Regions from separate parts of the Homo sapiens genome. Here region 1 is linked to region 2. The links come from fine-mapping of genetic effects on gene expression. A gene starts in region 2. The other region holds a variant in brackets. All regions are shown on one strand. Distances are from middle to middle. Region 1 overlaps LRRC61 (leucine rich repeat containing 61). Region 2 holds the start of REPIN1 (replication initiator 1).

Region 1 (5,366 bases), 40 kb after region 2:
CCCCCAAAGGCTGAGGACATATCCCACCTGCCAGCACATGCCCACTCCACATCCTTGGCCACTTTTTGAGAAAGCAAGCCTCTTAAGGGCATGTGTCCACTTATCCACACAGACAAGGTGTATGCAAGGACCTTCATACCCACTTATGTTTTAACAGAGCATCACATGTACAAAGCCACGTAGTACAAAATTCACAGTCACCTACGAAGAGAGTAAGCCTCTTCTCGGCACATACTGCTAGACGTAAAGGAAGTAATCGGGAGATGGAAAATGACATCTCCCAGAAAAAAAAATATGGCAATCTGTCAAGTGAGAAACTGACCCTTTCCTACCAAATAGGTTTAAGATTCTGGCCATGAGCATGTGGCGCCCAGGATGCAACACCCAGCTCTCTGCTTTGACCTATTACAGGCAGGGGCTCTCTAGGAGTTCACGGGCAGGGTGAGCACCGGCACCTGCCATGTCTGCCATCCCACCCTGAGCGGACTGCAGGGTCTGTATCCCCTTGGCCAGGTCACCACTAGAGCAGATGAGGGGAGGCGGGGTGTAGTTGGGGAACTGCTCCAGGTTGGCCTTCAAGAAGAGGAGATGCTCAATGGCTTCCACCTTGAGAGAAGAGTTTTGCTCTACAAGGGTGGGGCTGTTCAGGGAGGCAAAGATGCTTTCAGAGAAGGCTCCTGTGGGGGGTAAGACAGATAGATGGTGGCCAGGCTTCTCGCTTCTTCTCCCAGTAAGCCAGGGGGTCATCCTGGGCTCCAACGGTCTCATTCTCCCACAGATACTTCTTGACAATGATGCTGGCCCAGTGGCTCTTGGTGGACAGCGAGCCCCCGCTTCTCTCAGAGGCCAGCAGCCCCATGCTCTCCAGCAAGCCCTTCTCCCTCTGGGCCAGCAGGAAGGCCCCAGAGTGGCTGCTGCTCTGCAGAGGCTCCCCCTGGCTTCTCCCCTCCACCCCGGAGCTCTTGGCTACCCTGGTGGGGTCCACGCACAGACCCCTGGGGCTTTGCAGGGGACTTGGGGAGTTCAAAGAGTATTCAGACACTCTAATCTCCTTCACCTTGTACACGAGGACTTGCTTCCAGTGGTCAATGTCGGTCGGCCCCCATGGCAGGATGGCCTCAATCTTCCCCTTGAAGCAAGGGTCCAGCAAGGTGGCCAGCACAAACTCCTCGCGGTAGAAGAGCTTGTTGAGCTGACAGTCGGTGCAGAGCTGCCGGGCCAACCCCTCAGCCAGCTGGATGGCTGCGCCCCTCTCCCCGACACTCTGCTCCTGAAAGTGTGTGTGAACCTGCTCCAGGAAGATGTGCAGGTAGCGCAGCTGGGGCAGCACCTGGCTCAGAGAGGCCTGTGCCGCACTCGCCTCGCGGACCACCATCTGGAAGGGCTACAGGAGCTTGCTGAGGCTGTCTGCCGGGCTCCAGAATGTGGCCGACAAGGCAACACCAGCCTTCCCCAGCTGGTGCCTGCCCTTGTACTCTTGAAGGGGCTGCTGCTGCTCCACCAGCCACTCCAGCAGGTGGTAGGCCGAGACCCAGTGGTCCAAGAGCTCCTCAAAGGGCTGGTGGGCTAGGAGGCTGCGCTGGCGCTGGAGCTGGGTGAGGAGTCCCTGGGCCTCCACAGAGCCTTAGAAATGGCTGCAGGTGGCCCTGGCAGTGCCCAGGATGATCTGGACACTGTGAGGGTGACACAGAAAGTTTCTCACCAGGGAGTCGAGGCAGTGGGCGAAACAAGGGATGGGGGAACAGCCCTCACCCTTGGCCGCCTGCTCCAGGCTGGGGCAGCTGCTCGATACCAGGAAGCCTGCCAGCAGGAAGCTACGGCCCAGCCACAGGCTGGCCTGCTCCAGCATCTGCAGCTGCCAGTCCTCCGCGGCTCCCTCCAGGGGCAGGCCTCGCATCCAGAGCAAGGTTCCCAGCATCAGCCCTTGGAACTCCAACCAAGCTCTATCCAAATGCAAACGAGGGCAGCTGGGGGAAATCACTCAGGAGCCTACATGCTTTGTCTGAGGCACTACCCCTAGAATCTCCAGCTTTCAAAAGTGGCCTGGACAGGGAAGTTGTTTTCCTTTTTAAGAAGGACAGGTAATCATAATATTTCCCATGCTGGAGTGAAATGATTAAGCATGAGGCCAGATGACGGACCCAACCCACAGCCACTACCTTCTGAGGGAGGAAATTCCTCATGGGCAGGCCAGGCTTTACTCACATCTTGTTTCCTCACAGCCCACTCTTGGGACAGGGTGCTGGGAAGTGTCCCAAGCAATGGGTGGCGGAGACAGGCAGAGAGTGTGGCTGGGGGACCGCTGCAGACCTGCGGCTCCCACACTCACCCCACCCAGCTCCAGGCCAGTGCGATGGGACTGATTCGCTCCCTTGGATACCGTACCTCGGTCCCCCGTCTCCCGGGTGCCCACAGCACTAGCTGTGTCACCGATAC[G/A]TCCGTGCATCTTAGCTTTTATTCCCCTTAATGTTGTTTGTGCTGTTGTCTACTTTAATCTCGGTCCCTCACTCTTTACTCTTCTCAGGTACTGAGCAACCTCAGGGATAAGTCGGCAGAAGCTCCAGGCCTGCATAGCAGGAATACTTCTGGTTGTTTTTCTAACCACGAAGAGCAACTATATGGAGGACCCAGCCTATTGAACTACCTCATGTTTGCCAGAGACTTGGCTTTTCTGCCACAGTGTCCTCCTGAAACCCCCCGACCTTGAAAATGTTTCACGGGAGACTAGGTTTCAACTGGATAGCATCAAGACTTGATCTCTGGCTAGTGGAAGATTGAAAATTAGACTAAGGTGCAGAGACACCAAGGGACACCACGGTTAGGTGAGGGTTTCCTAATCCTAGGGCATGGGACTTGCTTCACACACCAGGTCCGTCCTTCACTGGACTGTGCTAGGCCTACCATCCACAACAGAGGGTATGCGTGTGTATTCGTAAAAGACGTGACTTGGGAACGCTAAATTTTAAGACCAGTGCCCCTGTACCCATCCTGTGCTGTCCAGGGAAGGATATATGAAGCAAGAACTAAAATTCTTAACGTTTCCAAATTCTTGGGTTCAAGGGAGCCCCGTAAGAGAGGGCCTCTTCATGTGGTGTGCACAGCCAGCGTCCTGCCCTGCTGCAGCGCTGATTCAGCATCACGGTAACTAAGGAGAAAAGGGGGCTTCATTTACACGCTATAGGATCACCACAAACCTCCCTTGCTGGGCTAGAATGGGACAAGCACGATAGAACGTGTTCAGGGGTGCACATCTGATCCTGGGTTTGTTTCCCCCTGACGCTGCCCCCTCTAGTTCCTGTATCTGTCTGGACTTTGTAGCAGTTGGTGACTGCTAGGTGGCCTAGTTTGTGTAACTATACTGTGTTGGTCTTTCTCCATGTTTTTTTGGGGTTTTATTGTTTACAAACTTTTTTGTATTGAGAGAAAAATGGCCAAAGCATCTTTACAGAAAGTTCTGAACCAGGCAAAAAGGATGTAAAACATGAGTTTGGGGGACCCCCATATTGAAGTAGGGATTTTGAACTATCCTTTCTTTGTGTTCCCCTTCCTCTATTTCCTATTTTGGACCAGATCTTCTGCCCTAAAAACTTGACTTCTACCGTACCTTCTTCTCCATTCACCTACCCCAAAAGAAAACCTACATACCCACACACGCATATATTGAATTCTCAGGCTGTCTCTGCAACTCTTAAATGATGTATGAGAACAGCCTGAAGAAGTCAGGAACCCTCCATCTCTTGTTCCAAACCTGAGTCAATGTGGTTCACCCCAAACACTTAAGACACTGCTTTATTGGGATGGATCAAACCTACTTAATCTGTAATCTCAAAGAAGGGAGAAGCAACCGGGGGCCTTCCACGTAGAAGTGGGGTCAGGAGACCAGGCAAAGGAATATGAGTATATATCTAAGTCACTTAGGAACTTTTACGCAAGTGCAAGAAACTTTTTTTTTTTTTTTTTGAGACAAGGTCTTGCTCTGTCGCCCAGACTGTAGTGGAGTGGTACAATCTTGGCTCACTGCAGCCTCAACCTCCCAGGCTTAAGCGATCCTCCCACCTCAGCTCCCAAGTAGCTGGAACTACAGGTGTACACCAACACACCTGACTAATTCTTTTAATTTTTTTGTAGAGACAAGGTCTCACTATGTTGCCCAGGCTGGACTCCAACTCCTGGGCTCAAGCAATCTTCCTTCCTTGACCTCCTAAAGTGCTGGGATTACAGGTGTGAGTCACCACGCCCGGCCCGGTGCAAGAACTTATGTCAAAGTGGCTACAAGATTGTTTAAAAGGAGACAGATGAATGTAACCCCATGTTTACTGCTAGAAACCAAAGCTTTATGTGAAATCTTGAATTTAGGGGCAGGGAGGGAGGGTAGAAAGGCTTGTACCTTCCCTGATCCCTGCCCCTCAGTCCTGAACTGCAGGAGACCAGGGCCCCTTGGGCTTTGGTTACTCCATCTCTGGGGTGCATCTATTGGATGGCTGATTTTTCTGTACCAGGTACTTCCTTTCCCATTTTCTAATCACTTTGCAACACACATGCTGACCCTTTTCACTTCCCTTCTCCTTTCCCTGGAAAGATATAATGAATACATAAAGACTTACTGGTACTGAAACTCAAAAAAAAAAAAAGATAAAAAAGATCTGACAATGAGTGATGCTAAACATTACTCACCAGGGTAATGTTTAAAAAGGGTCACCAGAGATGGCAGGGCTGCCTATAACAGGTGACGAGATGGCTAAGAAGGCTCAAGCAAGACTCTGGCCAGAAAGAGGAGCTCCTCCCAGCCAGAAGAACCTCAGAAGGGTTAAGTGGCAACAACTTCAAGTCCATCTCGCAAGAACTTTCAGCCACCAATAAATCCAAGAACTGAAGGCCTACTGCAAGGTGGCGCTTGTGTAGGGGCTAGGTAAAGCTGCAAAGGAAACACAGGCTGCTGTCCTGGGCCCACAACTGCTCTTGGATGTCACACTGGAGGGGACTTAACTCTCACTTCATGATTGAGGAAACTGCAACCCCAGAGTGTGAACATCCAGGCCTCCAGAGGCCATCTGCAGAACGGGGTCACCCTCCAAAGTATTTTTTTTTTTTTTTTTTCAGACTGGGTCTTGCTCTGTCACCCAGGCTGGAGTACAGTGGCATGATCTACCTTGTTGCAACCTCTGCCTCCTGGGCTCAAGTAATCCTCCCAAACTCAGCCTCCCAAGTAGCTGGGACTTCAGATGTGCACCACCACACCCAGCTAATTTTTGTGTTTTCTGTAGAGACGGGATTTCACCATGTTGCCCAAGCTGGTCTTGAACTCCTGGGATCAAGCAATCCCCCTGCCTCAGCCTCCCAAAGTATTGGGATTACAGGTGTGAGCC
Region 2 (5,366 bases):
AGAAAGGAGTCGGGGCTGGGCCAGGCCCATGGCCAGGGGGCCCCTGCAACGACGTTCCAGCATCGGTTCTTCCTCTGCTGAGGGTGGAAAAGCACAGTCACTCCAGAGACCAACTCACTCTGCCCCTGTTTCTCCCCTCCCAACCTCAGCCCCGGACAGGAGCTGCCATCTATGAACCCCTAGAGCCCCGGACATGGAGCTAGACTACTCTCCTGTTTCCTTGTGTGGTATGTATTATTTCAATCTTGGGTTTTTAGATAACATTTCAAGGATGTTTGTCTTATGTCTTTGTTGCCCTGGAAACTTCCAGAAGGGAGGGACTCTGATACTAGAATCCCCCTCATGGCAGCTACCCCAGTGTCAGACAGGGAGTAAATGCTCCAGTGCTGAATGCACAAACATTCCTGCCACAGGACTCACCAGAAAATGTGGCCACTGCTCCCTACAGTGCCTTATGCTGCCCTCTCCCTGTGTCTGCTGTTTCCTATGCCACATCCGAGCTGCACAGCAACTCTGAGAAGCTGGACAAACAGACACTGAGCTCCCTGTTTAACAGATGAAGCAACTGTGAGACATCAAAGATGACGAGACCTGCCCAAGGTGACACAGTAAGCCAACAGCAGAATCAAGACTAGGGAACAGGTCTTTAAACTCCCAGGCCAGTGTTCTTTCCTCTAAAGCGCCTGGGTTTGCAAAGATCTCAGAGAAAAAGGTGTCTATAGCTTTTCATTCCTAGCCCCACAGGGGAGGCACTTTCAGCATCACTAACTGCAGTCTCCGTAGGAGGCTGGAGGACAAGTGAGAACAGCCCTTCTCGGGGAACAGGAGCAGAGCCCTGGGTGCTACTCCCGGCAGTCTAACGCCAGACCACCGCCTGCCCAGACTGTGCCCCCATTCTGCCCGCCTGCCCTCTTCCACCCACACAAATTAGGACATTGCAGGAAGGAAGGCTCTCCCTGAATCCAAGGAACACCCACAGCCTGCTGCCCTCGGGGCCTGATCACCGGCTCTGCCTCCCTCGGGGTGCTGGAGATTACTGGGGCAATAGAAGGGGAGGGAAGATGAGACTGCAATCTCAGTCCCCTGCCCGGTCCTGCCCCAACCTCGCCAGGGGCTGCCCCATGTTCAGCTCTTCCACAGCTCAGGGGAGCCCAGATTCCTGCACAGGAGCCTCCTCCGCGGAAGGAGGAAGGAAGCAGTTAGGCTCCTAAGGGCCCTTCTGTGCCTGCTCACAAGCTCCAGACACATCCTTCTAAATTCCCTAGAGCGCACTCTCTCTTCTCAGGGAACACAAAGGTCACTCATTCCCAGTGTCAGACTGTGCACAGGGAAGACCCCAGGATATGAGAAAGGGCCATTTCCTTCCGCCGGGATGGGGACGCCCGTGCACCCCTGTTGTGGCGTGGTTTGGGAGCACAGCAAAGGCCAGACTCTACCCTGGAGACTGCAGAGCTGGGGATGAGGCTTTTTCCAGCTCCTCTTGGGGATGTTCCTGGGGATACTTCCGCGGCTGCAGCGCCTGCTTCGGCCCACACTCCGGTAGCCCCCAGGTGTTAGAGAAAACTGCAGTAATAAAGACACCCCTATCCCCATGGCAGAGCTCAGACCTCTGACTGCAGAGAGGCCAGCCTTACCTGTGGGGAGGGAAGAGAAAACAGAAGTGAGGCTCTGAGCTCCTCTAGGGCAGTCAGCTTTGTGTCCTCACCAGCCACAACCCCTCCCCCCACAAAGCCACACGCACCAGCCATAAGCCCCACATCCTGCCTGGCAGAGTGACCTTAATGGACATTGGATTAATAAATGAATGTGCCCCTTCAACAAGGAAGCACACTGCTGTCTTTCGGGGTCACTTTCTTCCCTGGTAAGGTCACGGAACGAATTCTCCATTCTGTGGCCAGAGTCTGGGCTTTCCCTGATGGCCAAAGGCCGGCCTATGGCAGGAACTCTGGAATCCCTGCTGGCTCCCCTTCCCCCAGCCTCCTCCCGACAGGAATTCCAGGCCTATTTCCCATGGGGCTGCGCAGGGCCAGCTGGTGTGACCACGACTCCGTCAGAATCCCCTTCCGCATCGCGGCTGGCCGCGGGTGGCAGAAGCCCCACACCGCCCTTTTGTACTGATGCGTGTCCTCCGTCCACGCTCCCGGGCACACGGGTCCCGTTCTTGCGAGTGAGCCATTTCGGGTCCCACGCACGGCGCAGCTCGCGGAGCCTGTGCGCAGGTGCGCTCCCCCACCCCCGCAGATCCAGCAGCGTCCCCCCCCGCGCACTCACACACGGTCGCGCACACTCACGGTCACGCGCCCCGCAGGTGGAGCGGCCCCCCGCGGGCCCGCGGTGGCCCCGCGCCCCTGCCCCGGCCGTACCTCTGCGGCGGGCTGTGCAGGGACGCGGCGCCCGTCCATGGAGCCCGAAGGCCGGCCTCCGCGGCCCACTCTCGCTCCCCGCCCCGCCGCGGCGACAGCGGCAGGTTCGAGTTCACAACTGCCAGGCCCGTCCCCAACCTCCCCCCGCCGGGTTCCCAGCGCCACGTGACTACAGGAGCTGCCGAGGGTCAGTCGCCGGCTCCCGCGGCCGCGGCCTGGGGGCGGGGAGGGACTGCCGGGGCCGGGGCGCGGGCGCCCCCGCCAAGAGCGGGCCGGGTCACTCAAGCCACTGCCGCGCCAGGGCGGCAGGCCTCGGAGGGTCGGACTCCGTTGCCATGGCGACCACCAGCCCGGGTTTCTCTGGGACTGGCCGGAGCTCAAGTTTCCCGACCCTTTGTCCCTGCGGAGCACGCGCGTCCCCGGGCGACCGCGTGGCTGGCCTATGGTCACCGGGGTGTTCGGCCTTAGCTGCCTTATGAGAGGCTGGGAGCCCGTCGGGAGACTTCAAAGAGGGCTCCGGCAAGCCCCCGGAGCGTCGTTGCCCGGGCCTTTCTCAGGCCGCGCACCCCGGCCGCAGTGCGGACGCTTGCGGCCGCGGCGGTCCCGGGACGGCGGTGGCGCACCTGGAAGGCCCTAGCTTCCGATTTGTTCCAAAGTGGAGCACAAAAAGGCCCGATCCTGCGAACTTTGAAAAGGCCTCTCTTCACTCTTTTCTAGAAATTAAGAAAGAGCAGAAGTTGCTGGGCTTCCTCTGGCTGCGGGCCAAGCGTGGGGCGACGGCCGAGGTGGCCGTTGGCGCACGTGGGGCATTTCGCTTGGAAAGGCTCAGCAGCCTGTGTGGCGTCTGCGGTGGCAGGTGCGAGCCTGTGCCCATGACTCACCCACTAGCAGGTGGCCCTGGCTTTCCAAACTAAACACTTCCTGGGGTTTCCAGGGTAGTACAATTTCATGTACTTTCATGCTTTTCAACACAGGCAATTTTTGAATTGTATAATTAGTCGTAAAAATACTTTTTAAATCTATTGCATAAATAGGAAATAGGGGAACATAAAACTCAGTTTTACCTCGTAGAGTCAATTACATTTAATATTTTGGTATGTTGCCTCCGGTGTTTTCTCTACGTATATCCATGGCATGTCTGGCATAATTGGAATAATGCCTTGCGAAGATGTATTCTGCCTTCTTCACTTAACACGATCTTGTGAATTTTCTTCCATTTTATTAGATATTCTTTTAAACATGATTATTTATGGCTGTATAAAAGGAATATATTTTTTAAATGTTTTCTAAATTATCTTCCAGGAAAACGTATTAGTTTTCCCTGAGAAATGCCCATTTTCCATATACTTGACAACACAGACTTTTTTAAAAAAAAAATTTAGTTTGAAATGGTTATTTCTCATCTTTTGTACTTGCATTTCTTAGAGTACTAGTTAGCTGGATTGTTTTTTCACATGGTTATTTTTTGCCAGTTTTATTTTCTCTTGTGAATTTGTTTATGTCCATTTGCCCACTTTTCTATTTGCCCATTTTAAAAGTTGGGGAGTTGGTTTATTGTTTGGGGGGCACTCATAAAGTACAGGTATTAAAGACTTGTCATGTTTGTTGCAGACGTGTTTCCTCGTACTTGTTAACTTTTTTTTTTTTTTTTTTTGAGACAGGGTTTCACTCTGTCACCAGAGCTGGAGTGCAGTAGCACTATCATGGCTCACTGAAGCCAGGACTTCCTGAGCTCAAGCAATCCTCCCACCTCGGCCTCTGAGTAGCTGGGACTACAGGATCACATCACCACATCCAGCTAATTATTTTATTTTAATGTTTTTCTTCTGTAGAGATGGGGTCTCACTGTGTTGCCCAGGCTGGTCTCAAACGATCCTCCCGCCCCAGCCTCCCAAAGTGTTGGGATTACAGATGTGAACCACTGCATCCGGCCTACCTTTTCAGTTGTTGATGTGAGAAAGTTTTGCTTTAGTCTATGTGCTGCTGAAGCGAGCATAAGAAAGTTTTGTTTTATTTTTATTTTATTATTTATTTATTTATTTATTTATTTATTTATTTATTTATTTTGAGATGGAGTCTGGCTTGTCTCCCAGGCTGGAGTGTAGAGGGAGGTGTGATCTCGGTTCACTGCAAGCTCCGTCTCATAGGTTCTCGCCATTCTCCTGCCTCAGCCTCCCGAGCAGCTGGGACTACAAGTGCCCGCCACCACGCCCAGCTATTTTTTTGTATTTTTAGTAGAGACGGGGTTTCACTGTGTTAGCCAGGATGGTCTCGATCCCCTGACCTCGTGATCTGCCCGCCTTGGCCTCCCAAAGTGCTGGGATTACAGGCATGAGCCACCGTGCCCGGCGAGAAAGTTTTGTTTTAATGTGCCAAAACTTAGCAGTCTTCCTTTATGGTTTCTGCCTTTAGAGTTATGTTTAGAGAGGCTACCCGCAACCTAAAACTACATTGAATGTCTGCAGTTTTATCACAGAAAATAAGTTTTGGTAGCTGGTAGTTTAAGTACTTCCCCTACACAAAGATTCTGGGTTTTTTTATTCTTCATAACTTCTTGGCTAGAATCACTTCATTTATTCTTCCAAACTGACATGGAGCCGGCACCCCTCTTACAGGCCTGCAGGAAGTGGGGAGGGGGCAAGCATGGAAATAAAGGAAAATCTTGAATTCCTTCAAGGGAAATTCCAGGCACCCAGCTAGCAACCTAATAAACAAGAAGGTAACTGTAGCTTAAAACAAGGAAGTTACAGTCACAAAATGTTTGGTTCCCTATAGAAACTAAAGATAACATCTTAATATATGTCCCTGAGTTGCTCTTCAGAAACCTGGGCCCCCCTCCCAAGTGGATGCCCTGGCCTGCAGACCTCAGACAAGAGGGAACTGAGGACTAAGCTCTGCTGTTCTTTGTTCTAAATTTCTTCCTGAGGATCCTGATGGAAGTTGGACCAGACCTGAACATTCCTTTCTGCTAACCCCAAGGTTTTAGGCAAAGCTTTGCTTCCT

The links.
Region 1: its variant is fine-mapped to the expression of REPIN1 in whole blood (TOPMed, PIP 0.92).

The regions. Positions count from the first base shown.
Region 1 is chr7:150,326,414-150,331,779 of GRCh38, reverse strand. All of the region lies in intron 2 of LRRC61 (leucine rich repeat containing 61), which reads right to left. It also overlaps the pseudogene ZBED10P. Among named protein-coding and RNA genes, the nearest start is that of ACTR3C, 5.6 kb to the right of the region's middle. The variant G/A (reference allele first, on the strand shown) is at 2,437.
Region 2 is chr7:150,365,939-150,371,304 of GRCh38, reverse strand. REPIN1 (replication initiator 1) reads right to left here and starts at 2,483. Exons shown (of 3, transcript NM_001099695.2): 1 at 2,364-2,483; 2 at 1,437-1,634; 3 at 1-77. The coding sequence starts at 1,593. REPIN1-AS1 (REPIN1 antisense RNA 1) reads left to right here. Exons shown (of 4, transcript NR_183429.1): 2 at 150-227; 3 at 449-600. RefSeq lists enhancers at 495-1,299, 1,300-2,105, 2,106-2,910, 2,950-3,009 and silencers at 1,570-1,719, 2,230-2,699.